Linked DNA regions of Homo sapiens: all the other regions are reported to be linked to region 1. Evidence: microRNA targets listed by miRTarBase, many of them from high-throughput screens and not tested one by one. Region 1 holds a microRNA gene; each other region holds the end of a gene's coding sequence.

Region 1 (5,367 bases):
GATCAATGTACGTCTTTGTTTTCAACATCTTTGCTTCTTTTTCTTTTTCTAATCTTGTCCACAGCCGAAGTCTTTGCTTAATTCTTACATGTAGACAATAAGCTATTTCAAAACCAATAGTATTTAAAGGAACAAATAGACCTTGATGTATTTTAGAGTAATGTTTTCCATTTATCTCTAGGCAGCAAACCAGATAAATAGTTAAGCTAAAAGGTTGGGGAAGAGTTCAGTTAGTCACCCCCTTCTACTGCCACTGCTTCTTTTAGCATTATAGTTGAGGGCTAATAGCAAATTGTTGATGGGTGTAGGAATATCAGTGGCCTTAAGAAAGTACCTCTGCCCTTTGATTTATAAATAGATCACATGTGTATTCAGTGTATTGCTTGGACTTGTGTCGAAAGGAACTACCATGCATGCCAGTTTTTCTTTGTTTTTGCTTACGTGGTGTTACTAATCATAGCTTAGTAATTTAACCCTTTTAAAGGTCTATTTCCTTGACTAAGTTCTTTGTCATTTTGGGTACAGATTGCCAAGTTACTTCTCATTATCGCCTTAGTAATACATGGTGGTTAGTTACAATCCATGGATACAAGTATTAAAATCTATTGTGTGGATAATACTTGAAAAATCAGAGTAAATTTTTGTTATAATGTGGTTTTACTGTTGATTTCAATGTCTTGAGAGGGGTGTCTTCTTGCATAAAATAAAAGTTTGATAAATTATAATTTGCCTATAAAGTTAAGTGCTCTCAGAGAAATATAGAGTAGAGAAATATTCTTTACAGTTACTATTTTAAACTGAGAGGTCAACGCTAATTCAGGCAGTATGCAAATGACTCTTACACTAAGTATATTCTGCGTCTGTTGGTTGGTAAGTATCATACTGCTGGTGAAATTAACTACAATTCTTTTTCATCATTTTTTCTAGTAGAAGTGAAACAGGTGTTAAACTGCCTAAACTTAAGTGCTGAAGATAGCAATAATACTGGCTTCTATTTTTACTAGTTATATGGGAGCTGTTTAGCAGATCCAGTTGCTCAAGTGTGTTTTTGGATGGCAGTTCAGTTTCATATACTGGCCATATCGGGGCAAGGAGAGGCCATGGGAAAAAAATAGTACAGCATTTGATAATGTCAGCATCTGTTATCCCTGTCAGGGAGACAGTTGAAATGTTTGAGTTATACCAGTGTCAGCAGATGCCCAGAGTTTAATATGTACTCAGTTAAAAATGAACAGCTGATCTAAGTGATAGATGTGACATTTTAGAGTGATTGAAAATACTCTTAGATAAGTTAAACTCGCAAGCACCAGAATCAGCATATAATTTTACTTTTAAAAATGAATAGCCTGTCATTTTATTTTCTAAGGATTATTTATATAGTCTTAATATTATAGCAAAGAGAGTCTTAGTTGCTAGGATGTTTGAGAAGGATTATTAAACAACTTGTATACCTATAGAATGACCAATATAACTGTTTATTATAAAACACAAGTAGAGTAATAAGCTTTGAGTATTTTTATAGAAGAACCTCTACTTTTGAGGTATATATTTTGAGTTCTTGGTATTTAGGACCTATACAGGTAAACTTACCAAATAGAACATGAATCATTGCCATTCTGTTTTGTGGATGATCAGAAGGGCTATGCTTATGTGAGTTAAGCTTTGAACTAATTTCTTTGAAAGTGTAGAATTTTAAAATTATGTGCCTTTTATAATTTCCAGTAAACATGCAGTAACACATATGATGCCATGTGTAAGTCATTCTCATTCTTTATAATCTGATAAAATGAAAATCATCTTTGTATTAACTAGTCTTATTAAACAGAAAATGAACTATAGTTAAACTTAGTCATTTCCATTCAATTTCTGATACAAAAAATTTAAAATATTATGCTTTTATACATGTGTAAATATTTCAGTTGAAATAATACTTTTAGTAAGAAATGGTTAGAATATGTGAATATTACTCTTATTTTCTAACTTTGTCATTAGTAGCTTAAAACAGGTACTGCTTATAAATTTTGCTAAGAGCATTATTTGGAATTTTTTATAAATAATATACAAACTGTGTGAAATAAAAGTATTTTGATATTTCTAAACAATGGATTGATCAAGTTTAGAGAAATTGAATTGTAATTGCATAGTACAATAAAAACAGTTCTTCGATCTGTATAAATTGGTTCTTGACTATAGTGCTTTCATTTTACATGCCCTCTTTGGAGAAAGCAAATTCGAAGATAATACAGATAAATTAATTTCTTTTAAATATTTGGTAGTCTGTTACCAATATACCCTGCTGACTTACAGCTGTGGACCAGAATTTTGTCATTTTTCATGCTTAAATCTTACATTTTAATTAATTTTAAGTTTTAACTTCACATTTAAAGTAGAGATTTGGGTTAAGACCCTGATAAACTTGAGAAGGAAGGACAAGGGCCACTATGTTTGTAGCTGTCAAAAAAGAAAGCCTTTTTAAAACAACAAAACTTTTGGTCAGAAATTCCTCTAATATTAATTATACATTTATCAAAATGAGAAGAAATAGCTTATTATGTGAATGAAGCCAGCTCTTAGTATCTTATTTTTCTGTACAAATCAGTGAGCCCTACTAATGAGATATACTTAAGATTAAATTGTGGAGACAGAAAATAGGTCATGTGTATTCCTCATTCTTTTGTGCTAGTAATACTATTTTCCCTTTTGCAGTCAAATTTTAATAATGAGAGTGCCTAATTTAAAAATGTAAGATGTCTGTTTTAAACTTAGATGATTTAAAAGGAGTTTCATGATAATTGAAATCTACTTCACTGGATCTTCTTTTCCTTCATGAAATAAAAACCTTAGGGATAGTTTCTATCTATCAGTAGTAGATAACCTTTTTTTTTTGGTGTTAGTATTGCCAAAGGTCATCTGTTCATGACTAGGTTAATTTACCATATGACGGTCATTCACGTAGAAAGAAGCAAGAGCTTCTTTTAGCTCAGTTTAATTCTCCCTTGGTGGTTTATTGCCTACCAAAAATACATACTTCTTTACATTCCATAGCATTGTATGTTCATATGGGTACATAAAGAAGTATGTACTCTGAGTAGGTATTACTAAGTTGTTAGCTGTAAAAACATGAAATATTTTATTTTCTTATTTGTTAGTGAAACATTCAGCTTACTAATGTAGAGCAATGGTAAATCATTTGCAGAGACTAATTTATCGAAGACTAAATTTTGTAACAAGTTTACCTGAAGCATGGCATTAATGGTTCCATATTCTTGGTGGACATAGACATTCCTAAGCATTTGACCAGTTATCTGTTGAACTTTGTCCTGGTTTGATTCTTTTTGCAAGAGATTCAAAGAATCAGTGTAGTGTTACAGAGTGTATTTCGGAAACTTAAGATCAGCCTAGTGTTTCTTCAGTCTTCAGAGTGAATTTCTTCTTTTTTTGTAGTCTGCTTCTAGATCCTACAGGTAGATAGTAATTAATTAAATTCAATTTTTTTTTTACAAACTAGATATCTTACTCAAAACCTAACAAATTAACCAATAAGTATTTCTGATATTGACTCTAGAAGTTGAAACAACAAGGAGAAAAACCAGGATGAGTGTGGGTGAATTGAACTTTTTTAAAGATTATGAATTTTTGTTAGTGTTTTATAAGGTCACAGATAAGAACTCGTGATCATTTGAAAATTTGTCATTCTTTTTTCTTTATTAGTTCCTTACCTGAAGTTTGCACTTTGATGCTTCTCTTTGGGTTAAATACAAATATGAGTTGAATACAAATTCAAATAGATGTAGAAATATCTAATTTTGGTGAGTTTAAGTTGTTTTGATTCTTTAATCTTTTTAGTATAAAGGATAACTGTCAGAATCGTCAACTTTTAGAAAGTATCACTTCAAAGAACTGAAAGGTTTTAGTCTGTGAGCACCTGGGTTTTATTTACCTTGATAGTTTAGAATGAAAAGAAATTATAGTTGGTAAGTAGCCTTCAGTTATTGTGGTATTAGAAGGTTAATTTAAAACCTCAAGAAATTTTCAGATTTGTCAAAGGAGGAAAAAAAAGGGCAGGGATAGTAGAATTTCTGCAGCTTGTGATAAAAAGCTAGTGCAGCTTATAGAGAGCAAATCAGAATGTAGCAGTAGATAGCCCAGCACTACAGCAGTTTCAGCAATGCAGCATTAGAATTACACCATGCACGTTCTGATTTATTTTTGTGGCCAATTATTAGTAAGCATTAAAAAGTATTTTATGATCTGCCAAGTTTCTTGGTTGACTAAACCTTGAAATAGAAGCTAATAGTTTTAGAAAATAAGTATACTTTGGAAGCAGGATGTGACTTACTAGAGATGCAAAATCATCACTTAATCTGAAACAATAATGACTAAATCTTTAATAATGTAAATGACAATAATGTATTTGTACATTTTTAAGATAAAAAGTTACTGCCATAGTATCTGAACAATATTCCTTTTTACACTACATTAGCTCTTAACTTGAATTGTGAAATTAGGCTATGGTTAGATAGAATTTAATTTAACAATGAGAACATATATTGAGTCAATAATAGGTAAGCATGCAGAAAGTCATAAGCATCCTTAAAAGTACAGGCCTTATGGTGCTCTGTTACCTGTAAGCTTAGTGTCATGCAGCATTTGCAGCAGGAAGAAAGGTAGTAACCTAGAGAATCACATCAACAGCAGCCATCTCATCTTGATTGTTCGTTCACTCTATTTGCTGATTCAGCATTTCTTTTCATGAGCCCGGTGAAGGAAGGGGATGTATCAGTGAACACAGAACCTCACCTTTTAAGATAAATTTGAAAAACAAACGAGCAAACAAAAAACAAGCTTACTTTTCCCTCTCCTCCCCTCTTCCCTTTACCAAAAACAAAAACAAAAACAAAAACCACCAACAAAAACAACTCTAAAATTGAATCAGTGTTGGCCATTTGATTTGGAATGTCATATAACAGTCTTGCACAGTTATATAGGGAAAGTTAAGCAATCAAAAAAGGTTGCTACAAAGGCCAAGAAAATGAACCTAGCTTGTCAGATGAAATGCTTCAGAAGAGGGGAAAAAGTTGCAGAAGTTAATTTTATAGTCTAAAAAAGACAAAAAAAAAAAAAAACAAAAACAGAACCCAAAACACACCTTACTCCCCCCAAATAACTGTAAACATTCACCCTGTTTTTCTTTGCCCTCCAGAATACATTGGGTTCTTCTGACTTCTTAGGAAATAGTCTGCATCTTTCTTGCTTTTAGATTTTTTTTTTTTTTTTTTTTGGTTTTTAGTTTCCAGGATTAAATAGTAGAGCTGTAGTGAAGCTACCTTGTCACATCCAGAGGTCAAGTCTGCAAGCGAGGTCAGG
Region 2 (5,367 bases), not on the chromosome of region 1:
TTAAAAGTGTCCTGGAATCATTAAGGCTAATCAGGGATGATGTTATTTCTTTTCTTCATTTCGTTGTCGTTTATAATCTTCCCTGCAAAGTGAGAAATGTTTAATCCTGCATATACCTAATAATTGTGTCTTCTGGTAGGTTTTACACAAAAATGGAGAGCTTTCTGACTTGGTGATGGGCATGTGAATGTGTAGAGGCATGCATATATGCAATTTTACACCTTTTAGTAACGTATTAGCATGAAATAGGATGGAATTTGACACTTCCTGTTAATCTCCTTTGTGAGATGGCCACAGAATGCTTGAAAACTTGTTTCTCCTCCTATGCCTTCAGCACTGGCAGCATGCTATCATTTCATAGCTGCTCCTTAGGCTGCCAGTTTTTTGTTTGTTTGTTTGTTTGTTTTGAGAGGGAGTCTCGCTCTGTCCCCCAGGCTGGAGTGCAGTGGCGCGATCTCACTGCAAGCTCCGCCTCCCGGGTTCACACCATTCTCCTGCCTCAGGCTGCCAGTTTTGACCAAATTACTTCCATTGGCTGACTGCAGTGGCCTTGAGAAAATCATATTATTGATGAGTTGCCAGACAAGTTACTTTTATCACTCAAGGAACAACCAAATGTTGGAGTAATAAATCACAAGGAATACAAGGAATATTTGGGGTAAAAACTCCAAAAAGTTTGAGTTTTGAAAGACTTAATCAGTGGGAATAGATAAGAATGATATACTTTAACGCTTATGAGGAAGTCTTAAAAAAAGGATTCTACTAAAATGTTAGCCTTATTTCTGCTTTTTTCCCCCTTCTCTTTCTTTCATATTTTTTCTTTTTTCCAGGAGCATGGCCTGTTCTTATTGATGACTTTGTGGAATTTGCACGCCCTCAAATTGCTGGGACAAAAAGTACAACAGTGTAGCACTAAAGGAACCTTCTAGAATGTACATAGTCTGTACAATAAATACAACAGAAAATTGCACAGTCAATTTCTGCTGGCTGGACTGAACTGAAGATCAATCCTCACAATTCAGACTGAGGGTTGAGACAAAACTTTAAGGATACATCTTGGACCATATCGTATTTCATTCTTCTAATGGTGGTTTGGGCTTGTCTTCTAGTCTGGGCCGCTCTAAACATTTATAATTCCAACATTGTGGATTTCATCTTATATCTGTGGACCATCCTAGTTTATTCTCCCATAAGTCTTAGAAGCTTTATGGTGATTATTTTGAGGTTTTCATTCTCGCATAAAGCACAATGCTGTCTTCATCAGAAAACAGTTGGCATAAGAATTAAACATATGAACATCACAAAACAATTTATAAAAACTTCTTAAATATACGCTTTGGGCTAGTTGCAAAGACTATGCTAATAGCACTTCCAGTGAGAGTGATATATTTAAGTGTACTGGATCTGGAATGGTGTTTTGGTTTGGGGGGAATTTTTTTTTTTTCCTGGCAAATCACATGTGTTGTTGATGTGAGTATCTGATGAAAAAACAATGTCAGAATAACCGACATGAAAATTTTTTAGGATAACTTGGTGCCTACCTGAAAAATGTATTGTGTTTTAGACTCTTGATTTCAAAAGGTTCCACAGAACTAGTCTGCGCTTACCTTACCCATGTTTATATATAGCTGTCCTACAGGGAGCTTTTATTTAGAAAATGTCTGCATAATGTTAGATTCTTCTCCTGTCTACATTATGCACTACATAATTGGACTTCATTATGCTTTTGAAATGCTTATCTGCCTGTCACATAAGTTAAACTATTTAATTTGTTTTGAATGTTTTGGATTGCTACACAATACAATATTCTAAATTTAGGCATGAGGGTTTTTTTGTTTTGTTTTTACTTTTTTTTTGTCATCGCACTATGGAACACAAATGGAATTCTCTTAATTTATAAGAAGATAGTTGCAGTTAAATTTTGAAAATGGTTGTAATGAGCCATGAAGTTCAATCTTTATAATATAGGTACTGCTCTTTCAGACAAATAGTCCATTTTCGATGACTTATTATTTTGTTGAAATTGCTTTAACTGCTAATCACTGTGGTTGCCAAATATTTACTTCAGGAGCAAAGATTTTCAAACAAGCATACACGATGCAAAATACCAATCTGGCTTCTAGTCTCTTTACTGTTTTCGTTTCACTCAGATTAGCTCAGTTTTCTCATCAAAGCAGAATGCTATCTTGTATGTATTTTTTTCATTACAAGCCCCATGAGCTGCTTTTATGCTGAAAATGGTCATTTCCCTGTTCACTTACTGACATGTGAAGAAGGGTTTCTTGCTTTCTTAAACATTTCCGTAAGGCAGGCTAGAAATGTAATACTTCAAATGTTTGATGATTATGGTCTTTTGATAGGAATAGATTCTGCTTGGGATATATATCCAGGCACTCTCTAAGGTCTAGGGTTGATATTAACAAAGGAATGTACTTAGAATAGCAGTACATTTTATGCAAATATGGAAATTATTTTAAGAAACAATGACATATCAAAACTGCTTTTTACATGATTTTGAAATAGACTAGAAAGCTTTCCCTATAGACATATTAATATTCCAATCATAACTTTAATTCAAGAATGCAGTTTTACCAAAAGAAAAATTTGAAAATTTCTATTCAGGCTACTGGAATTGGTTATTAAAAGAAAAAGGAAAAAGAAGAATCTTGCTGCTTTCAGTATTTCCTGATTTTTTTGTAAATATAAAGAGGAACTTCAATTATGAAAAATTTTTAAAAGATATATATATCTATATATCTATATATATGTACTGTTTTGTTTCCTGTCTTGAAGATTTTGAGTTATGGTTATTGGTTTCAGATTGATTAATTCACATATGCTGTGTTTTGAAATGAGATCCCATTAGCTTTTTTTTTTTTTTTTTTTTTTCAATATAAAGTGTTTTCTTTAAAAGTCATATTGGTTCGTGGCCTAGTGCCTTGGATTTTACATATTTTTCTTTTTAAATGCAAAACCTTTTCAACAAAATAGTGTTTGTCATCAGGTTGGTACTAAACATTTATAATTACTGTGTAATTATAAACAAAAATACATAAAGCTTTGAATATAATTATGTAGCATAAAAGTTAAGGTTGTTCACTATGATGGCATCTTAGAATTAAACAAAACTTTTACTAGGGCTGAAAAGAGAAGACTGATTTAATGTGGTGTGATTATTCTGAAGATAAATGTCTGGCTACAGGGAATATTTTGTACTAAAAAATGATTACACATATGGCTGTGTGTGTTTGAGTCTGTGTCTGTGAGAGAGCCAGAGAGAGTGAGAGAGATTGACAGAGAAAGGGAGAGACACACACACGCCCCTTGAATTGCTTTAACTCCTAAGTGTTTCAGTCCTCATTCCGGTAAACTCCCCATGCTGATTCTTTGTTTTAAACTGAACCATAGGTACAGTTTCCTTTTTGCCAAATGTCAAAACAGGTACAAATTTTAAAATGTAATGCTTTTTAAATAGAAAAATGTATAAAATTAGAAGTGCCCACATATAAAAAATACTTGAGATGAAGATTATCTTTAGTGAATATCATCTGCATATCTCTGTAAGTTCAATTGTGTTTCTTACAGTCCCTGTCATATTACCAACAGAGGCAATAAAAGCTGCAGTGAAATTGCCATGACTAAATCTTTTCACATATTTCAGTGTATTTTTTTTATAGATTTAAAATATACCTGAAAACTTTTCTAGGAAGAATAATTATTCATGGAAAGAGCATTGTAATGGCATGTTTTGGGGAGAAAAGACATGCCAAGTCTTGTTTACTACATTTAAGATGTTTACAACTATACTGGGCTGCTTTATTAACAATACTGTACTTGCATAATATGGCATTATAAGTACATGTCCTTCCTTAGACTTTTAAAAAGTTTTAATGAGAGAAAGTAAATTTACTCAACAAAATAACATGAGAAATCCTTTACGTAATATCTTTACTGGGGAATTCTTATTTAAGCAAGGTACACTATTTTTTCCTCAGACTTAAATGAATGAAGTGTTCATTTATTTTTTATTTGATGATAATCAAGAAGTGAGTAGTAGTAGCTAACTTAATGTACACTTTGCTTAGGTTTTTAAACATGTTACTATTAAGACTACGTATTGTAAACCTTCTGTAATTTTCACATATGAATGACAGGAGAAAGTTAAACCTAATCGAAGGAGTTTTGGAATAAAAAAGTGGTGCTGGGGAAATTCACCATGGTTCACAAAGTATGCCTTTGTAAAACTGAATCAACTTTTAGCAAGAATTAATTTATGTAGTTTTAAATGTTAAATTGTGTATATTTAACAGAAAATACTTATCTGGCACCTCAGCAGTTTTAATGTTACCTTATACTTTTAACAGTATGATTTATATTGAATACTTAGATGTTTTCATAAGATTTTATCAAATTTGATAATGTAATGATAAAATGTTTTTTTAAATGTGAACTATTTAACATATAAATGGGGACACAAAACCTGAATTGTGATTTCTACATAATGTGATAATTAGGGTTCAAATTATGACTCATCATTTAATTGATTATAAATGAGTATATTTCTGAACTCTTTATTGCCTCCATTTTTACAATCATAATATAGCAATAATTTCTATTTTTATTTCATAGGACTGTGGTGAAGTTATTTATCATGACACCTTTATCTTTGATTTCTGAGGGAAAGGGGTGTATATTTTGTAGTTAAGATAAATGAGAAAGTTCCTAATAGTACAAATGCCCTTTTCCAGGTTTATCTTTGCTATTTGTTGCCATTTTTCTTAAATATTTGCTTTATTTGTACCCGATTTCTGGAGGCAAATAGTGCTGTTTTTTCAAACTCATAATATAGTTACATAAATGATTTTATCAGAGCATTCTTGCTATCTTATTTTCTTTCCTACCTGTTGAGTAAGTAGCATTTCTTGCTCACCAACTCATTTATTTGACTAGGTTCAGTGTTTCCTATTAATGTGTTTTTTTATTTTCCTTTGGTTGATTTTGAAAAATCTGTCACAAATAAGGAAGTTATGGTAAAAGATGCACAGCCTTTGTAGTTAGTGGAATTCTCAATAAGTAATGTCTTTATGGAGTTTTAAAGGGAAATTATTTAAAGGGAATCATGTTATAGTTGTCCATTTTTTAAATTGAGATTTTAAAAGTGTTTTTAAGTATAGCCCAATTTTCTATTTACTTACAAGTGCTTCATGATTGTTTTCTTTTTTATTTTTTGCCATCATGCTGTGCAGAAATCATAATGTAGCTTGTAATACTTCAGAGCATTGGTCTTGAAGCTGTAACTTGGGGCTGCTGTCCTTCATGAGGTAGGGCCATAGCAGGCAGGCCCTTTCCCACTTCCTTTATGGCATT
Region 3 (5,367 bases), not on the chromosome of region 1:
GGACAGGGAGCCGATGGTGAGAGCCCAGGATGGCAGAGGGAGGCCTTACTGCTAACAAAGACTAGTGTAATCCAGTTTGGCCAGAGGTGGGAAGGGCACGTGGGAGGACCAGTGGAGGTCAGATCAGGGAGGGAAATCAAGGCCAAATGGTGCAGTGCCTTAAACGGCAGATCTTGGGGTTTGGACTTGATTTCTCATGATGTCGTCACTAGGAGTTACTGCAGCTTTTGGAGGGAAGCCAGGCTTGAGGAGGGTTGTGCCTGGGGATGAATGTCTGGCAGCAGTGTGTGAGGTCAGCTGGAGAGGGTGAGGCTGGAGGCAGGGAGGCCCGGCTGAGAGCTACTGAGGGCCAGGTTCAGATCTGCTGCCCAAGGGGGATCAGGTGGGATGGGATGAAGGGTCAGAGATGCCTCTGGGAAGAGGTTCTGGAGCCATTGCTGGATCCTTTGGAGCCACAGGCAGCCGTTCTTCCTGGGCAGGAAGGAGCGCTGTCCAGCTTCTGATTTCTAGGCCTGTCATCTGTTCAGTCTTAACCCAATTACAGTAGAAAGAATGAAATTAATTTATTTGCTATTTTGAGCTGGGCATGGTTGTCCATGCCTGTAATCCCAGCACATTGGGAGGCTGAAGCAGGTGGATCACCTGAGGTCAGGAGTTCAAGACCAGCCTGGCCAACATGGCGAAACTGCATCTCTACTAAAAATACAAAAAATTAGCCAGGCGTGGTGTTGTGTGCCTGTAATCCCAGCTACTCAGGAGGCTGAGGCAGGAGAATCACTTGAACCTGGGAGGCAGAGGCTGCAGTGAGCCAAGATTGTGCCACTGCATTCCAGCCTGGGCAACAGAGTGAGACTCTGCCTCAACGAAAAAATAAAATAATTTGCTATTTTGCATTCATTTCTTTGTCCAGCAAGTACTTCTTAAGATCTGTGATGTGCCAGGGGCTGTGTTGATGGGAGCAGAGCGGGCATCCATATTTTCATCCCTTTCCTCTCCCCAGGTACGGAGATACAAGGGCCTCATGGACTGTGCCAAGCAGGTGCTGCAAAAGGAAGGCGCCCTGGGCTTCTTCAAGGGCCTGTCCCCCAGCTTGCTGAAGGCTGCCCTCTCCACAGGCTTCATGTTCTTCTCGTATGAATTCTTCTGTAATGTCTTCCACTGCATGAACAGGACAGCCAGCCAGCGCTGAGTGCAGGAAGGACCCCAGGTCTTCCCTGGAGGCAGCCTCCTGAAGGAAGGAAGATTCAGTCTCCACTGAGAGGTGCCGTCTGGCCCTTCCCTGCAGGCCAGCTGCCCCAAGCGGGGTAGCAGCCTTGAACCCACCCAGCTGGGACACCACCAGAAGGTCCAGGGCTCTCCCCATGAGAGAATCAGAGGGAATGCAGGACGTGGTCTATGGTGAGCCAACGACACAGTGAGAAGGAGCAGGAAGTTGCTGTTTCTCCTCTGACCAGCCCACACTCCAAAGGAAACAGACGCCATCCTACACCTATCAGCCCTGCCTGCCAGGAGAACAGAACACACTCCTGGTCTGGATGGGGCTGCTGCTTGAGTGCAGAGGGCTGCGGTAGGCCCTTTGCAGGAGTCAGGTCCCTACACTTGGCCTGTTTTTCCAACCTATTTAATAGACATTAAAGCTAAACACACATTCCTTATCTTACTCCATCTCCCCTGGCACATCTGCCTACTCACAAAGTATGAGGGAAAGGACTCCTGCCTTCCTCAAATCCCATGTTCTCCATAGCGGCAGCCCTTGGCAGCTCTGCTTCTAGTGCTGGGGGAGACTCCAGGCTGAGCCAGTCACTTTCTGGGCCCCGTGCCCAGACCTTCGTGTCTGCAGACACACCACCACCCAGGCTGTCCTCTCCCAGGACCGGGCTGGTCATGGCCGTGGGGCTCCATGGAAAGCAGATCCCAGCGCCCGTGCAGGAAGTGGATGGGCCATGCTGTGGGCAGGCGTGGGTGAAGGTGCAGCCTCTCCCCAGTCTACCTCACTGACTCCTCTTTCACCCAGAGCTGGGTCAGCCTTGCTGGGTGAGGAGCTATCAGCAGGACAGGTGGCATCAGCGCCCACTGCCTGCTCCTCAGTGCAGAGCATGCTGCGGGTGCATCCTCCCCTGTAGCCCCAGAAGGGCCGTGGCTCTGAAGCAGCCCACTGATGGGGATGGCAGAAGGAAGGGGCGGGCACGTAGCCTGGTGAGGGCACAGCTGGTGCCTGGGGTGTTACCAGAGCAGAGGGACACCCACAGGCGGAGAGGCAGAGGAGAAACCAGTTCCAGGCTGAGGGGAGGTCTCCAGAACATGACCTCCACCCTTCCCTCCATCTGCCCGGCCTGTAGGGTTGCTCCGACCTGGGAAGCCCTCCATTCTGCCTCCCTCTCCAGCCTTGGAAAGAGGCACCCACTGGGAGCCGGCGCTGGCCCTGGCCCTGGCGTGTGGGTCCTGGGCTCCTCCTCGCACCATCCTTCCCTGCCTCTGGTCTGGGATTTTGGGGTCTGTCTGGGCCCTGAATGCTGGGGCTTCCTGGCTCTGGGCTGCTGGTTCCCAAGGTCCAGGCTGCGGCGGGGGCCACGAGGATGCAGCTGCCTGAATGCATTTTTTATGAAATTCCGTTAAAGTTTCTTCTCTTCATCTTTCCTGCCCATTGGTTTCTTTTGCTGCAGCTGAGCGTTCTCTTCCTCCTCCGTTTTCGGTGACCACTTTGGCGGTTCTTTTAAAAGGAGGCGAGAACGCGGGCAGCGCCGGCAGCGCTCCTCCCGGTCGCGCGGCAGGAGCGGCGGCAGTTCTTCCCCCACTTCTAGGTGCCCTCCTGTCACCCAGGGCAGACGCCGGGCGGTGGGGTCCGCGCCACTTCAGGGGCATTCGCAACAACCGACGGCCGCGAGTTGCCAATGGGGCCCCTTTCTCGGGGCTGCCCCTATGACCTGAAACTCGCTTCGCCCATGTCCTCCTTGGAGCGGGAGAGGGTTGTGGCTGGCCCCGGCCCTGCAGCCCCTGCCTTCTCTACCTGGGTTGGGGGAGCGGGGAAAGTGGTGCGACCAGGGCTGATGCTGTTCCTCCTGCCACCAGGTCCCCACCACGCGCTCTGCAGGCTCTTCCCACGCCGCGCAGCCCAGCGGTGTCTCCCGGCCCAGTGCACCTGAGCTCCGGGGAGGGCTGGGTGCGGGGCCACGCGCAAGATCGAGGTGCCGGCGGGTCCGGCGTGGGCCCGGACACGGCCCAGGCGCACCGGGTGAAGGGGTGACGAGCCAAGCGAGTTCCGCTTGCGGCTGGGTGGCAGCGTCGCAGGGTCCCACGCAGGCGGCGCGGCTTCCGGGGCGGCCTGGAGGCCAGGGCAGTGCCCCGGGGGCCCGGCAGGTGGCGCGGGCGAGCCGACCCTTCCCCGGCGCCGCGCGAGGAGATGAGCTCACGGCGGGCCCCGCAGCGCCGGACGCTGGTTGCGCGCTCCCAGGCGCCGAGCGGCCCCGGGCACGCGCGCGCGCCACCGGCCCGGCAGGTGGGTCCCGGCTCCCACGCCGCCTCTCCCGCCCGCGGGACCCTGGGCCGTGGGCTCCGCAGCCCGCCCTGTGCCTCCGGGAGGGGCGTTCCGGGCGCGGGGGGAACGGCCGAGGGCTGGAGACCCTAAAGGCGCCTCCTACGGCCAGAGGGGAGCCTCCGGCGGGAGCCACCTCTCCGGGGCGCATCATCCTGCCCCCCAGTAAGAGGAAGGCTCCAGAATGGAGCTCAGGAATTAGGAGTCTCGAGTGCGTAGGGCCGGGTTACTGCCACTCGGGAGCCGATCCGACCAGCCTGTCCCAGGGAGAAGCTGGCACGGGTCTGGGGAGTTCAGGCTGCTCCCGGCAGGGGCGGCGGACAGGGCGCCTGCGTCCCCACCCACGCAGGCCGGCCCCATCCGGGGGATGCAGCGGCGGGTGTTGAGACCGAAGGACTCGGCGAAAGCCAGAAAGAGAGGGTTGGGGAGAGGGGCTCGGAGACCTGCTGGGGACAGAGTCGCACCGCTTGGAGTTCCCAGCCTGGCCCTCACCCGGCATCTTCCTGGGCCAGCAACGTCAGGCCGGTTTATTTAAGCAACTGTAACGTCCGCCCGCACACACCCTGCCCCAGTCTACTCCTGCCTCCTGCTGGGACTGGAGGGTGGGCGCTTTCCTGCTTCAGCTTCTCGCTCTTGTGTAATCCCACAAGCGAGGGATTTCTAAACTGAGCAGCAGGTGCCTGGCTGATGCCCAGTCCCCACCAGAAGCCAAGCCTGGTGGGCCTTCAGCCAACCACCGCACGCCACGGACCGCCCAGGAGTCCCTGTCCCGAGCGCGCCGTCAGCCCCGTCCAGGGCCTGCAGGACGGAACCCGCCCTGCGCTCCACACCTGAGGCCGCTCCCTTCGCCTCTTCTCCTCAGGTGCTGTCCTTATTCCCAGCCCAGTCAAGAGCTACCGGGGCTGGCTAGTCATGGGGGAGCCCAGTAGAGAGGAGTATAAAATCCAGTCCTTTGATGCAGAGACCCAGCAGCTGCTGAAGACAGCACTCAAAGGTGAGCACGGGACCCCTCCTGAGCTGGGGTCAGGAGCTACAGAGAAGGGCCCCTGTGGGCAGCACCAGAGGCTGAGCCTGGTGAATGCCTCCACCCCTCCCCTCATTCTCTGACGATAGGAGTCGGCAACGTAATTCTTGAACTGGAAGACAAGCTACATTGAGGCCATTATTTTGGAGTATGAATCACAGTCACCTCTCAGACTGTAAAGACTGTTTTAAAAGTTTAACCATAGGGCTAGGCGCAGTGGCTCATGTCTGTAGTTCCAGCACTTTGGAAAGCCAAGGTGGGCAGATTGCTTGAGTCCAGGAGTTCAAGACCAGTCCCGGAAACATGGTGTAAACCCCATCTCTACAAAAAAAAAAAAAAAAAGAAAGAAAAGAAAAATTAGCCGGGCATAGTGGCAGGCACCTGTGGTCCCAGCTACTTAAGATGCTGAGGTGGGAGGATTGATTGAGCCTGGGAGGGTGAGGGTGCCATGAGCCATGATCCTGCCACTGCACTCCAGCCTGGCTACAGAGCGAGACCCTGTCTCAAAAAAAAAAAAAAAAAAAAAAAAAAAAAAGTTTAACCATAAAAAAAAGAACACGGCTCCTGCCCTTGAAGCGCTTACATTTGAATTGCTGGTTTCTGTGCTGCCATAGCCCCGTCTCTTGAATGCACAGTTGCCTGCTTTGAGACAGAAGATGGAGAATATTCCGTTTGCCAGAGGAGCTATAGTAATTGCTCTCGCCTGATGCCTTCCCGCTGTAACACGCAGTACAGAGGTTTGTCTTCAACTAATAATTAGCAACACCCATCATGTGTCAAGCCGAGCCTGTTGGGAGGCCCTATGTGGCCC
Region 4 (5,367 bases), not on the chromosome of region 1:
AATTTTGAACCCGTCCTGCTAACATTTTAATGTATCTTGGCTTTTGTTGTGGGGAGCACAAGTGGGTCTTGCTATATTGCCCAGGATATTCTCAAACTCCTGGCTTCGCAAGCGATCCTCCTGCCTCAGCCTCCCAAAGTGCTGGGATTATAGGCATGACCCACCATGTCTGACCAGTCTTGGCATTTTATAATAAGCATAATCTATCTGAAAATGTCACTTAAAAGATCATTTTGTTTGCATATCTATTCACTAGTCCAGTTAGTAGTCCATTAAAAATTCGCATTACTTCGGGATTAATAGGTATAAAACAAGTTTTTTCTTTTCCAGGATTATATTCCATCACAACAAGATATTCTGCTTGCCAGAAGACCCACCAAAGGCATCCATGAATACGACTTTGAAATAAAAAATGTTCCTTTCAAAATGGTTGATGTAGGTGGTCAGAGATCAGAAAGGAAACGTTGGTTTGAATGTTTCGACAGTGTGACATCAATACTTTTCCTTGTTTCCTCAAGTGAATTTGACCAGGTGCTTATGGAAGATCGACTGACCAATCGCCTTACAGAGTCTCTGAACATTTTTGAAACAATCGTCAATAACCGGGTTTTCAGCAATGTCTCCATAATTCTGTTCTTAAACAAGACAGACTTGCTTGAGGAGAAGGTGCAAATTGTGAGCATCAAAGACTATTTCCTAGAATTTGAAGGGGATCCCCACTGCTTAAGAGACGTCCAAAAATTCCTGGTGGAATGTTTCCGGAACAAACGCCGGGACCAGCAACAGAAGCCCTTATACCACCACTTCACCACTGCTATCAACACGGAGAACATCCGCCTTGTTTTCCGTGACGTGAAGGATACTATTCTGCATGACAACCTCAAGCAGCTTATGCTACAGTGATGTACAAAAGACTTGCTGTTTTAATATCTTTTTGTGTTTTTGATGTTTTCTGTTTGTTTTGTTTTTTAAAATAGCAGTTTACAACCAGAATTAGAACAATCTTAATTCTACGTTTAACTTCTTGAAAATCTTAGTACTTTTTCTGCGGCCTTTGGTTTGTGGCTGAAAGCTGTTGAGTGACTCATCGCCAAGATTTGCTGTAATGCAGGCTTTGATCTGTTTCACCATGGCTTCTATTCAAGTCCAGTTAAAACCTCCCAGCTGACCTCAGACTAGGCATATTTCAGGCTTTAAATTATTCTACTTTCCAAACTGAATTCTCCTGCAGTGCCAAGTATCAAAGGTGTCCTTAAATACTTGTAGGGATGAGGTTAGGAATATTCAGTTCCAAAACAAGATATCTTCTGTCCGCCTTACATATAGCAGTGACACTTGTTGCCTAACTTTATGGTGACCTCCTATTTTGTAAGGGCTGTTAGAAGTTCTATCTAAGAAATGGCATTCTGTAGGTTTATAGAAGGTTTAGCCTTCATATTTTAATTGCTTGTATACACAACAGCTGTTTTGCTTTTAGATTTCTGTGTTTCTGAAGGTAATGTTCTTCCTGTTTTCAAGTTTACATAAGGATCTTTGGTCTGATGCTGATGAAGAGTTCACAGGTGGTATGGGAGAGCAAAAGGCAAGCTAATGCTGTTTACCGTGTTTTGGTCAAACGTAACGAGTGAAATAGAATTTGCCTTTCTCATATTTAATTATCATGTAGTTTAATGTACCATATGTGAAACATTCTGGCCATAGCAGCAACTAAAAACTGCAAGCAACTTGGTAACAGAACTTTCTAAATAAACTTAACCTGTTCCAGAATGTCATGTATTTGACTTTTAAGCCCTATCTCAGTTGGTCAGTAAAGACCAATCCTTACTGTAGGAAATCATTGTTGTATCATCACAAACATCTATCTTTTGCTGTCCTGTCCAGTCCCATCAACTCCACACTGTGCCATTTGTGGCATCGTTTTGTTTATTTGGAGTTTGCTAAGGGCAGTATTTTTCTGTCAAGACTATTCAAGAAGGCATTATTTGAGATTCCTGTTCATTCTTGGTGTGTCTCTAACAGATACAGTATGTATACATTTGTATAATTGTTGTTGTTGAAAGTCCAGCTTTTTTGAGGTATATTTTAAATGTTTTAAGGATGCTTCTAAGGATCAGTAGTAATTTTTTTAGTTCGCACCTAAAGATGATTACATTGACCTCCCCCGACTGCTTACCAAATTAAAATGTGTCCACGAAGTAGCTTTGTGATCGCAGATACATTCATAGTGAACTCATCAGAATGGCTGGTTTGCAGTACTGAAATACTATCTTCTAGGCTGTATGTAGTGCTACAATTAGAGAAACAGAAGTCCAAGGCTGGCGACAGCTTGAAAAGTCTGACAGCTTTTCTACTTTTCCTGAAAATTTTAAGACTGTGATATCTGTCATTTTACTGTATAGCTGACTGTGTACTCAGGTATTTTATTGGTCCTTGAAAGATTGGTCGTTATGGATCACCCAGCCTTTCCAAGTCAGTGGCTGTTGTTCTGTCTTGCTGTCTGATACGAGAGTGGGGCTTTTCAGTGAACTAACCAGGGATTGTTCTTGACATACCTGACTTTTCTCACATTTGAACTTCCACTATCATTGTATCCATATAACTTCTAGCATTTTCATGCCATGGTAATCCATGAGCTACACATACGTAGCCCGGCACCGTGATGCAAGTTCATGGTATCGTGCATGTTCGTGGTATCATGGTATCATTCATGCGTGTTTGAATAGTTCTACATCTAGTGCTTCTTGCCAAAAAGAATACATTGTTTAAATTCACAAAATTAGCATAATTGCAGTGCTAATGAATATCGGAATATGTGCACAGTAACATTTGGACTATTCATTGGAGAGTTTACCCATACATTTAGCAAATTGAATGGCCAAAACATTTGACTCCAGTGAGGGCTCAAGTTAGATCCCTATAGAAAGAGGACACTTCATCTTACTTAAGTCATAGTTAAGATCTGTGATACGAACCATAGATATTGCCTGACAAAGCAGAAATCACCAAGTTTCCCCCTTTTGAATTACCACCAAGAAGTGTTGAAACACCAAATAGATATCATGTTATTTTGGGCATTTGCAGTTTTCTTCCCTGCTGCATGTAATGTCTCAGAATCAACATTCTTTTAAAATCTAGACTATATTTTGAGGCAATGAATTACTTATATTCAACTTAGGCTTGTTTTGACATTCAGTAGAACTTTAAGTTCAATCTAAAGGCTTCAGTCCACATTTTTTTATACGTTGTATTTTAAAAACGTTTGAAAGGAGTCTTACACCTGTATCATGAAAACTGAATCCTTTTGAAATACCACTATATGAAGAGAGAGATGAAATTTAGTGAACAGAATTGAAAAGGTGCTCATAATTTCACTATGCAAACTTACCCCAGTCTCTAAAAAAGTAATTTAGATTTAAAGTTCTTTGATGTATTTGATTTTCTAAATCTTTATGGTTATGATTTGGAATAAAATGTGCCTAATCCTGTGTTACATTCTGTTCTTAAATCTGAATGCCTTCTCATTTAATTCTGAGGAAATATCACACAAGTGTCTTCATTGACCTTGAAGAAATGTATATACAGTTGCCTTATAAAACAACATAAATTTAGACCATAACTTTTATAGAGAAAGGGTTTTGTCAAATGTTTTCTGAAAATCTGAGTAATTCAAAGCATGCCTCTGCCCCTTTAATATTTTTAATAACCTGCATTGTTGCTGTCTGCCAAATATTAAATTGAAATCTTCATTTCAATTTTATTATCTGGAAAGGGCACTGGATTGCTCTGCAACCAAAGAAAGCAATATGGAATGAAAAAACTCATTCACTTTTGTCTTATTTTCTTTTAAGGTGTATTGGCATGTAATTTGCATAGAGAAGGTCCTCTGGTTAGTCTCTCAAATTGAGGCTGTTTAGGGAAATCCTTATTCAGTTGGTGGCAGTGGTTGGTTTAAAGTAGAAGGAAATAAGATCGCCTTAATACCAGAAATGATTAGAAGTGCTGATTTAGATTCAACAAATACCATATGTCCTTATCATTTTTTGTAAGAAGAAATTGGTTAAGTCCTAACTTTCAATGTGTACCCAAATACTTGTATTTATGCTTTTGATAAAATGTATTTTCAGCATTAATACACATCCGATTATGCCTTATTTATATATGAAGAATAAAGTTACCATGTTACACTGTTATGTCCTAAAATTCAAATCACTATTTGAGAAACCCTCAAATTGGTGCTTTCATTATATAATGATACATTTAGACAAAACCCCAAACTAAGCCATTTGAAACAAGATTCTCTCCATTGCAGTTTGTAGCAATGTTATTTCTGTGTATGTCATGAGAAGGCTAAATATCAGTGTTAATTTCTTGTTTGAATCCGTGAAATCATGCCTGTAAAGCCCAAACATTTGTAACAAACTCCCTAATAAATTTAGAGAAAGTCACTCTGTTACCATTTCATTTATTTTAGTTTTATTTGAGAAATTAAGACCAGAAGTTTTGCTCATGTCTTTTTCACTTGGAAATCTGACTTAGTACCTAGTTAATTTGTCTCTCTCCCATCATTTTAAGGCGTTCGCTTCTGTTAATCACAGATGATCTGTCCTTGTGTTGTGCTGCTTGACTAAAAGCACTGTTTTGTTTTGTTTTGTTTTGTTTTTTAATGATAGGATACAGGGTGGCTTTTCAGTCTAGTAAACATGAGGAGGGGAGAGATTGTGGGTGGGTGTGGGTGTGTCCGCATGTCCCAAATACAGCACATGCCCATTTTTTTATGGTACGAGGTTAGGGCTTATTAATAAATGTATACTAGATCTTGAAGTGTAAGTCTAAGTCTGAACATTTTAAACAAGTTGGACTTTATGGCTTTTTCAAGTTCCATCAAGTAGATACTAGTCTTAGGCTGGTAGGTGATTAACAACATCATTTGGAGTACAGTGTTTGTACCACTAGCATTCTTATGTCTGTACTTGAACGTGTAGTTAGCATTTAAGTTATGTTCACTCTTGTAGCATTCAGGTCTTACCATCTGGTTTCAAATGCGAGAGCTTATATGAACATTGTTTTGAAAGCATGAATGATATGGCAATATTTTATGTCTTGATAAGGAGAGTTTTGTGACATATACAAATCTGCTGTTGATGATGAAAGTTTACAGGTGGATCAGAGTATGCTGGAACTCAGTGTGCATAAAATTTCAGTCAGTGAATATCACTGAACGTCATATACTACTTGGTATGTGACTTTGGTTTGTGTTAAGAAAGCTTGTATATAATATTTTTTGCCATAGTAAGTGAGAAATTGTCCTTAATCATGCCTGTTTGATGGTACTAGGAAAGAAAGGGGTAGAGATTAATTCTTGCACAG
Region 5 (4,000 bases), not on the chromosome of region 1:
TGCACAGAGCCAAGATTACACCATTGCACTCCAGGCTGGCGACAGAGCAAGAGACCATTGGCGGGGGTGGGGGGGGGGGGGCAAAAAAACAAAACAAATACACTTTTATAGCATTGATACAAAAACAATGAGAGAAACAGCTGGATCACTGGAGTTACTATTCTCTAATGTACTGGCTCTTTAGAGCTAGAGCAAAAAATAAAAATATAAAAATAGAACTGTCCCAACATCCTCTGATCAACCACTGTAGGCTCAGAAAAAGATAAATCATCAAGTATGACTTCCAATTAAGTTTTAATTTCTAAACCCAATGACGACTTAGGTATAAAAGCACTTAACTTGTGGAACACTTACATAGATGTAAAAGCAACCACTCTGATTTGTATTACTTTGTAATACCAGAAGGAAGTTCCAAAGAAATACTTAATGGAGTAAGAAGCTAGTTATTTCTCTCACACACGCAAATCCCTTAATTAGGTCTTCTGTATCCCCCACTTCCACTGTTTGCCAGCACTAAATCAGTTACTCTAGAACCAATACTGGATGGATGGATGGATGGATGGATGGATGGATGGATGGATTAGGTAATACAATCCACTCATCTTAAGCATATCTACAAAGTAAACAGTGTAGTTTATCAGCAAATGCAAATCTTCTAGATTACTGCACCACATTTTCCATCATCACGGACAACTGAATGTTAAAAGCCAAAAACAACGCAAGAGTAAACAAAAAACGTTACAGACAACAAAGATAGTGAAAGAATCAAGACCACTGTTAAATGGCAATTCAACAGATCAAAAAAGTAGGGTCTATTGCTTGGGCTTCCACACTCATTCTAGACTTCCAGGTTGAGGCTTTTACCTTCAGCAGTCTCTTGAGGTCCTCTGATTAGTAACACTAGTACTTGTTCACAAGGCTCTCCTGGAGGGGGAGGAGAGCCTCAAAAATTAGGATAGCCTGTCTTCAGTATTTCTCATGGCCATTAATACAAAACAGATGAATGGTTTTGCGTGTAAAGATGCAGAAAATTTAGACAACTGAAAAGAGACGCTCTAATGGATAGAAATAGCTTTGGAGAAATGTCAGTGAAGTGACAGGCTCCTCATAAAATGAGGCATTAGAAATGATACATAGAGTTCAACAAGTCAGGATTCTACGCTTACTATACTTAGAAAATTGAAAAAATACAAACCACTGAAAATTCTTAAGATACTGCTAAATCCAGGACAGGTGGTGATACAAAAAAAAAAAAAAAAAAGCTATGGACACATACTAGCACAGTAAATGAATACGGAGATTACTTAGGGTAGAAATAGTCTGATTTGCTGCATCTTCATAAGGGAAACTGAAGTAGGTAAAATCTCATACTACAAACCCCTTCCCCAATTTAAAGCATTAAAGAGTCCTCACACCAAGCTAATTTAAAGGTTTAGTTTATACAATTGATAATTCTGCAAACCACAATATGTCAATAACTACATACTGTAATAAAAATAAACAAAGTCATACTTAATTCTATAATGCATTAAGAATAACCTAAAAAAACAAATTGTGAATAAAGGCATATTTAATAAATTAGGGAACATCTTAACTTCTAATAGACTGGGGGAAATTTTTAAGTTTTCTATGTACACAAAGGCAGTGGGAACAAATGAAAAAAACAAATTACTACATTGTTGCAGCACATTAAAGACTGGATGGTGTATATTATTCACAATTACATCCTCTTTCCCATAGCCTGGCAGAGGAAAGTAGTTACCAAGCACAGGAACAATTTCAACATCTCACTGGAGTCTCCAAAAGCAAGCAGATACTGCAGGATGTCATTAAGCAACTTACTGTCACTTCACACCATATGTGGCAGTAAGAAACTTAAAAAAAAAATTAAAAGGCACGCATAAGCTGATTTCAAATATTTTAAGTCCAGGCTACTCTCTTTAGATACAATGTTTTGAACACTTGTATAGAACAGTTTTTAAATAAACATTTCCAAAAACTTGAATACAGAACTTAGGAACCATGAATCTTCACCAAAAAAAGTTACATTGAAAAAAAAAAAAATTCATGAAATAATTACAGCTAACCTATATTTAGAGATAAAATATTTTTTGGCAACCTATATTCTTTAGGAAAATAAAATGTTTGATTTTAGAGTAAGTAGTATGTTTACTAAAAGTTCTCACTATATTTCATGCCTATTTAAAATTCTACCTTTAAAGATCTTTAAACTGATTTTATATTGTTCCTTACCACAATTAGACTCATTGAAGAGCTCAAAACTAAAGCAACAGCATTTTTCCTAGCATGCACACACAAAATAATCTACCATTTAGTCATCTCTTTAGCTTATGTTTTCAATTTTTAAGAATAATCAAACTGTCTAAAAAATATTGGGCAAAAATAAAAATATTTTCTCTACTTGATGACATGTTTATGCATCTCAGGTAGCATTTTAGATCAATATCCTTTTCTTGAATGTTTTAATACCAGTATACTTAAACATATGTTAAGAGTAAATGAGGCAGATTCTAGTGTATAAAATGAAAGCCATTCATAAGATTTCACATGCAAAAAAAAAAAAAAAATTCATAAAGTTCAAATGTGTTTGTCCTAAAAATAAACGTGCAAGTACACTACACAATGAAAATGACTCGACCATCTTAGCCTTTTTTTGACAGTATAAAGCTAAGTTCTTTCTGATGGCCCACTCTGAAAACGATCTCAGATTCCATAATTTAAAAGCATTTTTCTAGCCTTTATTAAGTATACTTTGTGATAATACTTATATCCTAAAACAGAGGCACAGGTTTGAGAATTTAAATCTTCTGGATGTTGTTAGTCTTTCTTAAAGGTAACACTGATGCCATTTGCTCTATCAGCATAAAGTTGATATTTGTAAAAATAGCCATTAAATACTAATTCACAAGTATATTTAATGTACATATAAACCCTATGTTAAAAGTATAAACAAGAGGAAATATAGTTCTAAGACTTCTAAATGGTTGACCATCAAAAAGTGAACCACCCTCTTTAAGACTTAACATAACATTAAAAAAAATTGCTTCAACATATGAATTTAAGACTTTACTTTATTCAGCAAAATCATTTATTTACACAATGGGGAATGCTGGTTTGATTTTGTCAATGAAATAAAAACAAAATGAACAGAGACAATACTGAACTGTATATATACTTTGTATCAGAGTTGACCAACTGTTTCCTTACCTGTATCAGGAACATCAAGAGCAACAGTATCACAAGGACACTGGTTTAACAATACACCACATAGGTCCAGTAATACCCTGGGAATTTCCCAATGCAATCACCAACTTTTTCTTTTTTTATAAATATATAAAAAAACAAAAAGTCAGCAAAACCAGCATTATGATGTAGCAAACAGAGTATAACTCTGAAGTCAGTGGGGTCAGTAAAAGCCTTATCAGACCATCCATAGTTTTACAATGTGATCTGCTCTTCCTCAGACCACTAATATAGAATCCAAACAGGTGAAAAATACGTCACTCCTTAGAATACAACAATGATCTGATAAGGATTTGACTTAGTGGAAGGAAAAAAAAAAAAAAAAAGGGAATTGCAGAGCATAGCCCCTATTAGAACAAGCTAACTTTCCAGATTTTACAAATTAAAAAAACAAAAACAAAAACAAAAAACCACTTCAACATGAAGCTACCATACAAAGTTTTTCCATTTTTCTTTGTAAAAAGTTCAGAGTTTGCAATTTAATCCTGGGTTTTTAATGAGAAGGACAGTTTTGGCCTGGACTTCCCCTTGCCCAGGATAATTTTTTGTTCTTCTTTTTGTTGACGTTGTCGTTCTTGTTCTAGTTTCATCCTTTCCTCATGAATCTTTCTTTGTTCTTCAACAATTCTCAACTGTTCTTCGGCCTGAAAGTTAAAAGTAAAAATTAATTATAGAAATGTATTAAAAATTATCATATGTACCCCTGCAACAGGTGTTATCTATTATGTATCTACAA
Region 6 (5,367 bases), not on the chromosome of region 1:
CATGAGAGTATAGGGCTTCAAGATAGCCAAGACAATTGTGAATAACCTGAATAATGATGGTGCTCTGGTGCTTATCCTATCAGAGAGTAATTCTTACTGTAAAGCTATATTTAATAAAGAGTGGGGCTAGATATGGTAGTGGTAAAGAGCATACAGAAAGAACTACAAATAATATGGAAATCTGACATATGACAGAGGTGAATAAATTTTTTTTTTGAGCTCTGTCACCCAGGTTGGAGTGCAGTGGTGCCATCTTAGCTCATTGCAACCTCCGCCTCCCAGGTTCAAGCGATTCTTCTGCCTTAGCCTCCTGAGTAGCCGGGATTACAGGTGCCTACCACCACACCTGGCTAATTTTTGTATTTTTAGTAGAGACGGGGTTTCCCATGTTGGTTAGGCTGGTATCAAACCCCTGGCCTCAAGTGATCCACCTGTCTCAGCCTCCCAAAGTGCTGGGATTACAGATGAGAGCCACTGTGCATGGCAAGATAAACTTTTAAATAAAGGTGGTACTATGAAAATTGGATAGGAGTATTGAAAATTATAAAAATTGAAGTAGACACCATGAACGTACAAAAATATAATCCCAAACTGCTTAACGACTAAAAAGTGAAAAACCATATTCAGAAGAAAAAAGGTTAATATCTTTATGACATTGAGGATTTCTTAATACAGCAAAATGCACCAACGGTGAAGAAGATACTTACATTAATATTAAAATAAAGTTTGTTTTTTTATTTTATTTTTTTTGGAGACAGAGTCTTGCTCTGCCACCAGGCTGGAGGGCAGTGGCACGATCTCGGCTCACTGCAACCTCTGCCTCCTGGACTCAAGCGATTCTCCTGCCTCAGCCTCCCAAGTAGCTGTGACTACAGGCACACACCACCATGCTCAGCTAATTTTTGTATTTTTAGTAGAGACGGAGTTTCACCATGTTGGCCAGGATGGTCTCCATCTCTTGACCTGGTGGTCCGCCTGCCTCGGCCTCCCAAAGTGTTGGGATCACAGGTGTGAGCCACCGACCCCGGCCATAAAGAACTTTTATATGACAAAAATCACAAAGTGAAAATGCAAGCCAGGAACAGAGAGAAGATATTTGCAACCTCTATAAATGTCAAGAGGTTAATACCAAGAATACATAAAGAGCACGTCAATTCAGCAGGAAAAAGCACCAAACAGAAAAATTTGCAAAGGATATGAATAGGCAGTACAGGGTGGTGGAAACCAAATGGCCAATAAATACAGGAAAGGACCACCAACCTAAATAGCAATCAGAGTAACATAAATTTTAAAGCATCAAAGACACAATTTCAAACTTATCAGATTGGCAATAGTCCAAAAACATCAAGTTATTGGCAATATGGAGCAAGAGGAAATCTTACTTATTGCTGGTGGGAGACTAACTTGTTACAGACATTTTGCTGAACAATTTGGAATACCTAGGTTACAATGGAAAACATGAACATCTCACATTCCAATAGTTCCCATTTCTAGTGATAGGTCTTAGAGAAGCCTTCACACACTGCAGAAGAATATTTGTGTGCTATTTTTAATAGTGAAAGGTAGGAAAAATGTAACTTTACCTCAGTAAGGAAAAGGCTTTATCTGTAATGTTTTATTTCCTTTAAAAAAAATCTGATGCAAAGCCAGGTGCGATGGCTCATGCCTGTAATCCCAGCACTTCGGGAGGCCGAGGTGGGTGGAGCGCCTGAGGTCAAGAGTTTGAGACCAGCCTGGCCTACATGGTGAAACCCCATCTCCACTAAAAATAAAAAAATTAGCCCGGCATGGTGGCGAGCACCTGTAATCCTAGCTACTTGGGAGGCTGAGGCAGGAGAATCACTTGAACCCGGGAGGTGGGGGTTGCAGTGAGCTGAAATCGCGCCATTGCACTCCAGCCAGGGCAACAAGAGTGAAACTCCATCTCAAAAAAAAAAAAAAAAAAAAAAATCTGATGCAACGCTGGGTGAGGTGGCTCACACCTGTAATCCCAGCACTTGGGAGGCTGACGCAGGAGGACTGCTTGCGCCCATGAGTTTGAGACCAGCCTGGGTAATATAGTGAGAACTCGTCTTTACAAAAAATGTTTTCAATTACCAAGCATGGTGACACGTGCCTGTAGTCCCAGATACTGAGAAGGCCAAGGTGGGAGGATCACTGGAGCCTGGCAGGTGGAGGTTAACAGGGAGCTGAGATGGCGCCACTGCATTCTAGCTTGGGTGACAGAGTAAGACCCTGTCTCAACAAACAAACATCTGATGCAAATAAAGCATTTGTTAAATATTATTTTGTATACTTACCTATTAATCTGAAATACTATATGAAAAAATTTTAAATGTGAAACATAAGCAATATTGCCTTTAACATTTACAGTAGGTTAAACATCTATTCAACTGACCTCTGTTCACTAAAACATTAGTAATGCTCATCTTTTTTATAAATAATTCTCTACAACCTAACACCTAGTAAGTAAAGCTTTTATTGCTTCTCTCCTGGAAATTATCCTATAAATGGGTTAACCTTGTAATGTTGATTCAAAAGCACAAAGGGAAAAGGCAATAGAAGTCCTTTTAAGATCTACTTTAATCTCAATACTTTTAAGTTTTAAATTTTGATCTCATTAACCTTATGAATGTCAACCAACAGAAAAATAAAACACACCAAAAGATCCAGAACTCTTTAAGGATTGTAAAGGGACAAGCTTGAAAGCCTGACGCCAATCCTCTCTTTGTCCAAAACCACCACCCTAACGGCTCCAGCCCCATGAATTCCTAGTTTAAGAATCTCTATATCAGATGCTATCAAAAGTTAGTAATCGTAGCTAACATTTATAGAGTGCCTACTAAATGCGGAACACTGTTCTAAGGGCTTTACATTTGTTAATTCACTTTTAAATCATAAACACACTGAGATCAGGAAAGTGGTTTAACTATTCTTAGTTTCAGTTCCCCGTAGTACAGTACAGTAAGATATTCTGAGAGACCATATTCACATAACTTTTACTACAGTATGGTTTTAATTGTGCCACTTCATTATTAGTCCTTGTTAATCTCTTACTGTGCTCAATTGATAAACTTTATTATAGGTGCATGTATGGATAGGAAAAAAGACAGTTCACATAGGGCTTGGTACTACACTTGGTTTCAGGCATCCCAGGGGGTCTTGAAACATATCCCCAGTAAACAGGAGGGAACTACTTACTTTATTTCCGACTTCCACATAAGCAAACTGAGGCACACAGAGGGCAATTTGCCTACAGTTAAACAGCTAGTAAGTGGTGTAGACAAGATTCAAATCTAGGCAGTTCGGTTGCAGAGCACACACTCTTAAGCAGGAATCTTTGCTAGTTAATTAGACAATTAATGAGAAAAGGTATATCAGGAAAACAATCTAAGAGTTGCAAATAAGTATTTTCTAAATGAGGTCGGAAGAAAAAAGGATAGAACCATAGTCTCCAAAGCATTTCTGTCTGTTTTATTCCTTGCCAAACATTAAAACTGTGATTCTATTTCCTGCTTTGAAAATCAGTTCTGTTTTGCACTGCTCAATGCCTTTAAGATGAAGGTTTCTTTGTAATATTAACAATCAGTGCACTCTTTCTTTCAACTCCTTTATTAAATTGGTTGCAAAAAAGATATACATTCTTATATTGACAATTCTTGTCATGAATAAAAGCATCAAAAATAAGGCAACAGCAAGATGTGCTTCACATATAAACAATCATGTTGTAAGAATAAGAAACCTGAATCCCTGTACAACAAAAAGATTAGGAAGCAAAATGTGAATAAGCTTGTATTCAGAATATACCTATATGTGTGTGCAAAGACAATACACTCATCATATACCTCACTTAGGTTCCTTTATGATGCATAATTCCTTAATCATTCATTTGTGAAACAAGAATGAATATTAAGAAACATGAAATCCAAATTGCACTTATTTTCACAATATCAATGCTAAACTCAAAATAGCAACTTCATTGACTCTCAATGGTAAATTTCAAACATGGAAAGCAATCTTAATTTTTTTAACCCTTTGACTAGGGTCTGTAAAAAACGGTGGATTATTTTACTGTACTTACAAAGAGGCTGGGTCTCAGCCTGCACTTAAACAGCATGAGCAACAAAGGACAGGAAACAAATATCACTAAGAGTAATGCCCATACATATAAAGATATCTAGTTGAGCCACGTTCTACTTACATAGCAAGCCTATTAAACCACTAGCATAACAGATCATATCTCATGAAACAGAATTACTAAATTAACTACACATCTCTCAGAAATTTCCAAATCCCTGCTCCCAACACAATTTTAGTACACCTATTAAGTACCACGGGTCATTTAGAAAAACAGAAAAAAATATACACCTAGTCTTTGCAATTAAAAAAAAATCATAACATAAACAATGTTAGATATAAATTTTGAACTCAATATGTTTTTTCCTACATATTTATGTAATCAAGGCTCTTTAAGCAAAGACAGGTGGTAGGTATATGATCTGTACAAACTTACAGTAGTGTATATTCCAAATAAAGGTTTTTCTTCCTACTATGGTATGACAATATAACTGTTTTCTGAATGAAGATACATGTTAAGGCTTAAGGTGTAAACACTTTGGAAGGCAAACAGCTTAGTGAAAAAAATTATGGTTCATTTAAAAATGTGTATCATTTCATAATAGACCCCTGAACTTTCAAATTTACATGTGAGAATACATTTACATCTTAACTTTCTAGGAAAGGCACAGGCTTTATGTAAAAAAGCAGCAAAGTTTTAAACCCACCAATATATTGACAAAGCCATTACTTTTATTAGAAACAAATAATGCTTCTCAAGGTGTTGGCAACATGTCATAGTATCAACATATACTTCATACAGTGTATTTCTCCCTTTAATTATATTCCGGTAGGAGGTGGAATACCTCCTTGGCTATGAGGGGCAGATGTATTTGATGGACTGTGTAGGCTGGTCTCCTTGTACACAAACCAAGCATTTCCTCCCCAGAGTATCATATTTAGAAAGCCAAATATCTATGAAAGAGAAAAAGAAATATGAAAATCAAATACCTACTTATAAAAATTCATGCCCTACTTAAAAATCTCACTTTTTCTTTAAATATTTAACATTTTTAGGAAGTACGCCATTATTTCACTTAAAGTTTAATACTACACACAATGAGAAATAAGGAAGACTACACTTCAATGTACAAAATGTGGTTATATAATGACTTATTCCCAATGAAATAAGGCTAAATCTCTAACATATAAAATCATGGCTAAGAGATTTACTCTTCCAAATACTTTTCACTTTTCTCCTATTTAGAATGATTATCAACTGCTTGTGTAACTTTTCCCATTTACTTATCA

What was found. Region 1 holds the annotated microRNA hsa-miR-1-3p (UGGAAUGUAAAGAAGUAUGUAU, at 3,021-3,042, opposite strand). A microRNA usually pairs through its seed, bases 2 to 8, with sites in the 3' UTR of a target mRNA and lowers its output. Matches are read on the target gene's strand: a 7mer-m8 pairs with bases 2 to 8, a 7mer-A1 pairs with bases 2 to 7 and ends in A, and an 8mer does both.
Region 2: the mRNA of DCUN1D1 is a reported target of hsa-miR-1-3p. The part of its 3' UTR that is shown has no 7-base or 8-base seed match.
Region 3: miRTarBase lists SLC25A19 as a target of hsa-miR-1-3p. The part of its 3' UTR that is shown has no 7-base or 8-base seed match.
Region 4: the mRNA of GNA13 is a reported target of hsa-miR-1-3p. The part of its 3' UTR that is shown has no 7-base or 8-base seed match.
Region 5: miRTarBase lists ARGLU1 as a target of hsa-miR-1-3p. The part of its 3' UTR that is shown has no 7-base or 8-base seed match.
Region 6: miRTarBase lists SYPL1 as a target of hsa-miR-1-3p. The part of its 3' UTR that is shown has no 7-base or 8-base seed match.

What each region holds. Positions count from the first base shown.
Region 1 is chr18:21,825,995-21,831,361 of GRCh38, forward strand. MIR1-2 (microRNA 1-2) reads right to left here and starts at 3,094; the gene lies at 3,010-3,094. All of the region lies in intron 12 of MIB1 (MIB E3 ubiquitin protein ligase 1), which reads left to right. It overlaps MIR133A1HG (MIR133A1 host gene), which reads right to left. Exons shown (of 3, transcript NR_110369.1): 1 at 5,328-5,367; 2 at 4,626-4,800; 3 at 1-3,458.
Region 2 is chr3:182,940,637-182,946,003 of GRCh38, reverse strand. It overlaps DCUN1D1 (defective in cullin neddylation 1 domain containing 1), which reads left to right. Exons shown (of 7, transcript NM_020640.4): 7 at 831-5,367. The coding sequence ends at 910. Among named protein-coding and RNA genes, the nearest start is that of DCUN1D1, 37 kb to the left of the region's middle.
Region 3 is chr17:75,269,273-75,274,639 of GRCh38, reverse strand. SLC25A19 (solute carrier family 25 member 19) reads left to right here. Exons shown (of 8, transcript NM_001126121.2): 8 at 1,001-1,648. The coding sequence ends at 1,189. MIF4GD (MIF4G domain containing) reads left to right here and starts at 3,409. Exons shown (of 6, transcript NM_001370592.1): 1 at 3,409-3,496; 2 at 4,395-4,526. The coding sequence starts at 4,445. MIF4GD-DT (MIF4GD divergent transcript) reads right to left here and starts at 3,341. Exons shown (of 1, transcript NR_036520.1): 1 at 745-3,341. RefSeq lists silencers at 1,983-2,032, 3,003-3,662, 3,773-3,842 and an enhancer at 1,707-2,494.
Region 4 is chr17:65,009,793-65,015,159 of GRCh38, reverse strand. It overlaps GNA13 (G protein subunit alpha 13), which reads left to right. Exons shown (of 4, transcript NM_006572.6): 4 at 331-5,367. The coding sequence ends at 903. Among named protein-coding and RNA genes, the nearest start is that of GNA13, 44 kb to the left of the region's middle.
Region 5 is chr13:106,540,253-106,544,252 of GRCh38, forward strand. It overlaps ARGLU1 (arginine and glutamate rich 1), which reads right to left. Exons shown (of 4, transcript NM_018011.4): 4 at 1,421-3,908. The coding sequence ends at 3,744. Among named protein-coding and RNA genes, the nearest start is that of EFNB2, 6.6 kb to the left of the region's middle.
Region 6 is chr7:106,086,909-106,092,275 of GRCh38, forward strand. It overlaps SYPL1 (synaptophysin like 1), which reads right to left. Exons shown (of 5, transcript NM_182715.4): 5 at 3,597-5,031. The coding sequence ends at 4,897. Among named protein-coding and RNA genes, the nearest start is that of SYPL1, 23 kb to the right of the region's middle.